Regions from separate parts of the Homo sapiens genome. Here region 1 is linked to region 2. The links come from fine-mapping of genetic effects on gene expression. Tissue or cell type: whole blood. Region 2 holds a variant in brackets; the other region holds the start of a gene. All regions are shown on one strand. Distances are between the middles of the regions.

Region 1 (2,500 bases), 63 kb after region 2:
AATACACAACACCTATTTCAGGAGTAGCAGTGAGGCTTAGGCGGGGCGGGGCGGGGCAGGGCGCGAACCCGCACACAATGGGCGCTCAATAAGTACCCGTTTTCTTTCTTTCCCCTCCCCTTCCCGCGCCCCCTCCCAGCCAGTTCCAGCCTCTGCTTGTTTCCCCTGACACTCCCTCCGCTGGCCCCCGCGCTGCCGCGATGGGGTCGGGGACCGCTCCTGCCGCGCATCCGGGGCTCTCACCTGCAGCCTTGGCTCTCGCAGGCCGCCGGGACAGAAGGGGACCCCTGTGTTATCTTCGGGGCAGGCGCTGAACCCCTCACCTGAGGCGGGACGAAGGTGACAGCCTGGGCTCGCGGCACCAGCCCGGCGGTTCGGTCCGACTGTCCTGCCCGCCTAGGACCCCTCACCGAGCGCACGACCCGGCCAGGGCTTCCCGGGCGCTCGCGCTGTTCCAAGCTGTTCCAACTGAAGGTTGGGGTCTCGTGAAGCCAGAGGCTGGGGGGGTCCGGGGTCCCGTGCACCGGAGGCGAGGGCCTGGGGCCACACTGCGCTAGCCCTGGAGCTGGGGTTCCGACCCTCACTGACGGAAAGGCGCGGAGCGACCCTGCAACCACGGACCGGTACGGCGGCGTTAGGAGCGTCCCGTCCCGGCGCAGCGGGTCAGGGCCGGGGCTCCGCGCGTCCCGGCCGCACGCCCCGAACCGCGGGGCTGGGACGGGCAGGGCAGGGCAGGCGCCGGCGGGGAGGCGCGGCGGCCGGAGCCCCGCGGGGAAGTCTTTCCAGGTCCCGACTCGGCTCTCTCTGCAAAACGGGGCGAACCTCGGCGCGGCGGCCGACTCCCGAGCTCCCGGCCGCGGCTCCACTTCCTCCTCTTCCCCTGCTCCCTCGCCGCTCGCTCAGCGCCGCGCCGCTGCCACCTCCGCTGTCATCCCCGCCACCCACCCCCACCGGAGCCGCAGCCCGAGCTCAGCCGAAACAGCGCCGCCCAGCGCCCCAGCGCCAGCCTGCGCGGCCCCGCCCGGACGGGGCGGAGTCAGCAGAGACCCCGCCCCCGGCCGGCTGCGGGCAGGGGCGGGGTGCGCGCCCTCTCCCCTTCCCGGGCCTCGCGCGTGGGGCCGCAGGAGCCAATCCGAGGGTGGGAGCGGAGCGGCGCCCTGCGGAAAGCGGATTCTACCTCGGAGAGGGCGGGGCGGACAATGGAGAGGTGCGGCTGCAAGAGGACAATGGCGGGGCTGGGGGTTCGGAACGGGCCGAATCGGGGAGGGGGTTGGCCTCGGGACCCGGAAGGAGGGAGAGGCGAGAGGGCTGGCTTGCCTGGGACGGGGGCATGGGGACTGCTGTGCGGGGATTGCGGGGGTCACGGGGAAGGAGCAGGGGCCAGTGTAGGAAAAGAAGCCGGGGCGAGGCAAGGTGGAGGATATCCGGGGTCAGGGGTCCCAGGGACGCTGGAGCGAGCCCTCCTGAGTGGTGGGATGCCACCGACACCTTGCTTCTCCCTAGCTTCTAGTGCTCGGCGCTCAGAGGTGAGAGTTGGGCTGGGAAGTGTTCAGATTTCAGGAAACGGTGAAAAATAAGTTTTTGGAAATGAGCGAATTTGTCTTCCACAAGCCTCCCTTCCCTGCGCCCATCCCCGAGGAGGAGCGTCGTGGTCAATTTTAAAAATACGAACTCAAGAGCAGAGTTGTGTGAGGACACACACTTCGAATCGTGATGCATCTGCAGTCCGCTCCCGCCCCTTCCCACCCCGCGCGTTGGGTGCAGGAGCCGTCTTTATTTTCTATTTCATTTTATTTTGAGACAGGGTCCCGCTCTGTGGCCCAGGCTGGAGTGCAGTGGCACTATCACGGCTCACTGCAGCCTCGAACTTCCAGGCTAAAGAGATCCTCCCACCTGTGCCTCCGGAGTAGCTGTGACTACAGGCGTGCACCACCACATCTGGCTAATTTTTAAATTTTTTGTAGAGACAGGGTCTCCCTATGTTTTCCAGGCTGGTCTCGATCTCCTGGGTTCCGGCGATCCTCCTGCCTCGACCTCCCAAAGTGCTGAGATTATAGGTGTGAGCCCTGTGCTTGGCCAAGGAGCCGTCTTCAGTGTGTGCACAGGACCAGGCGCAGAGAAGGTGTTGGAGGGAACTGATGTATGAATGAAAGTTGAATGTGTGCCGCGGGGGAGTGGGGTAGGGACCATGTGAAAGCCGCTAACTGGCCTGGGGAGCTAAGGGATGTTGGTGGCACAGTACAGTCTCTTTGTAAACCTCACACCAACCTTATGTTGTGATAGGTACCCCATTTCACAGATGAGGACTCAGCACAGAGAGGCTAAGTGACGTTCCCGAGACCACACAGCTGGCACAGAGTTCTATCCACCCATCATTATCAAATTCTAGGGTAAAGCTGTGTGGCTTTAACAGGTTACTCTCCCTCTCTGAGCCTCTGTTTCCTCATCTATAAAAGAAGAATAAAGGTGCTACTTGGCAGGGAACCAGGTGAGGGACTGG
Region 2 (2,753 bases):
CCTGGGCCTGTTTCCTTATCTGTCAGTAGAACCCTGGGTCCTTGCCCTCCTCCCATGACCTCTCCACTGCTTAGCAAAAGGCAGGCGATGGAATGGCGAAGAGGAAAAAACAGGTGCCCCTCCTGTACCCAGGTAAGTGGCTCAGACGGCCCTGCCTTTGGATCTGAGGTACCCACAAAGGACCTTGAGCTGTCCCCAAACTCATCTGCCAGCCCTGCCCAGGGCCTAGCTAAGGGAGTTAGGAGGCCTAGGATCCAGGGCTATCTCCTCTGCAGAGACCTTGGTCTCTCTGAGCTGTAGATTTCTTGTATACAAAGGGGGTAACCAAAGGGCCCTGCCCCGGTTGAGCCCTGGCCCAGCCTTATGTTCCTATTGTCCATGGTCACAGCACCGGGAAGGAATGCCCTGTGTCTCCCCAGTGGGCTTTGGCTCCTGTAAGCCTTTGTTCTTTGAGGCTCCCCTCCACCTCTTCAGGAGGCCAGGAATGCAGGCTGAATCATCAATGCAAGCACCAAGGGGTCTCCAAGACCAGCAGCTAAAGTTCCCCAGGTTTCAATCCCAGTCATTCTTTAAGGCCCAGTTCCCATGCCTCCTCCTCCAGGAAGCTTTCCCTGAGTTCGCAGTAGGACTCCCCTCGGGGCATGGATCTCTCTGTTTCCTCCTCCTCTTTCTTGCCAGTCTGCGATACAATCCTCACCCATACCTCTGGCACTTCCCACTATAGTCCCACACCAGCCTCCTCACCAAAGCCCTGGAGGTGAGCAGGACAGAGGCTCCCAGGGAGTAGGCCCTGCCCAGGGCCACACAGAGAGCTGGTGGCAGAGCTCAGAGGGCCAACCTGGGAGACAGGCTCTAACTCCAGCCCCCAGGTCCCAGCTACTGGATACCCAGCTCTGGGCCCCTTCCTCCCCCACCCACTGCCCCTACTCACCAGTTGAATTCATCATAGTCATTGTGGACTTCCCACCAGAAGTAAAGCCAGGTGAGCGTGAGGCCAAAGGTGAAGGTGAGGAGCAGGAACCAGAGGCGCTCCCACTGGAAGAGCAGAGGAGGAGGGGATTAAGTGGGTCAGGGGCCAGCCCCTTAGGCTGCCTCCCACCAGAATGTGTCCTCCTCCCTCCCACTTTGTAGCCAAACCTGCCAGGCAGGAATTCCTGCCCTCTTTACCCTGGGAGAAACTGAGGTTCAGAGAGGGGAAGTGACCTGTCCACCATCACCAAGCCCAAAGTCACAGAAAGGTGGAGAGCCAGGGGCAGTCAGGGCCTCCCCC[C/G]CTGGGGCTGTGCTCTTTTTACTGTGGTCTGCAGCCTTTCCATCGTGTACTGCTCTCCCTATTCTGGGGACGGCTCCCTTGGCGCTGGCACAGTGATCGGCAGTCTGTGAAGTCACATCCCTCACACACATGCCTACAAAGCAGGCACTCTTCTTCTCCACCTCTACCCCGTGCTACCGAGAAAAACACTGAGGCCCAGAGAGGCCAAGTGACTTGCCCAGGTCACACAGCAAGTTAGCAGAGGATTAAGGAAGAAGTACAGAAGTGCCATGTTCTGCTGCCTCCACTGGGCCAGATACCCCTGTCTCCAGCCAGGTGGAAGTGGGGTGGCGGGGGACACTGACACCACCACTGCTGTTTCCTGAGGGGCCAGCTCAGGCGTCTGCAGGCACTTCCTCCTGGCCCTCCAATTTCTCCCTGCTTTCATCCGTCCCCTTATCTTGGAAGCACAAAAAGCTTGGAATATCCTGCATCCCGGGAAACTGCTGAGATCATCAGAACAAGTCAACAGCCCTTGAGGGGAGGTCAGTGTGAGGAAGAACCAAGACTACATTTCCCTTGAGGGTGTAAAGTCACAGAGGCAGCCCTACGTCTGAGCTCCCTGCTATGTTTCTAAACCATCCCAGTTTAACCTCTTCATGGCTCCTTACTGATAGCCAAGCAGGAGTGTGGCCCCCTGACCTCTCCAGCTTCGACCTACACAACCAGTTCCTGCAACCTGGAAGGGCCACTGCCTCTGGGCTTGTTCCCTGAACATTCCCACTCACCTTTCAAGTCAGCTCAAATATCACTGCTTCTGTGAAGCCTCCCTGGATTCACCCTGCTACCCTCGTGCCTGCCGCGGTGCGCCCGCAGCATTGGCATCCCTCTGTCTAAACTCACGCTCTGCACACCATGACCTGCTCACTGTGTCCCCCAGACAAGTGTGGGTTCTGCAAGGACAGAGACTGAGCCGACTTCCACTCTACTAGTACTTTATGACCACATGCAGGATTGGGCAGGAAGGAGGGAAAGTCTTCTCACTGTCCAGAATCCTTCCATCCCACACCATGCAAAGATACCATCAGTCTGCCCAGGAACCTCAGATCCCTGTCACCACTTACAAGCTGTGTAACTCTGGGCAAAGTACTCATTCTTTCTGTGACTCAGTTTTCACCTCTATGAAATGAGGGCAATACTAGTACTTATGCCATGGGGTTGATGGAGAATTAAATGAGATAATACAAGTCAGGTGGCTTGGTGAGCACTCAGCACACTACCAGTGTATCTGTGACATCCTCTGCCTCTCCAGAACGTAGGAAAGGCCTTCACACCCTAATGGTCCATGACTCCATACCCACTAAGGGCCTGCTCCGTGCCTCGCCCTGGGCAAGAGGGCTGGTGCCTGGGTGACCCTCCTGTCCCAGGTGGGTCACTTCAGTTGGGCGACTCATGTTTGGGTGAGCAGCTGCCACCACTCCTTGTCATGTGCAGAGCCCGACTG

What was found. PIP is the estimated chance that this variant, and not a neighbour inherited with it, causes the effect.
Region 1: GDPD5 starts here. The variant in region 2 is fine-mapped to the expression of GDPD5 in whole blood (INTERVAL, PIP 0.98).

The regions. Positions count from the first base shown.
Region 1 is chr11:75,524,967-75,527,466 of GRCh38, forward strand. It overlaps GDPD5 (glycerophosphodiester phosphodiesterase domain containing 5), which reads right to left and starts at 975. Exons shown (of 17, transcript NM_030792.8): 1 at 244-975. RefSeq lists an enhancer at 326-826 and silencers at 673-1,192, 1,243-1,302.
Region 2 is chr11:75,461,855-75,464,607 of GRCh38, forward strand. GDPD5 (glycerophosphodiester phosphodiesterase domain containing 5) reads right to left here. Exons shown (of 17, transcript NM_030792.8): 4 at 932-1,035. Among named protein-coding and RNA genes, the nearest start is that of KLHL35, 30 kb to the left of the region's middle. The variant C/G (reference allele first, on the strand shown) is at 1,271.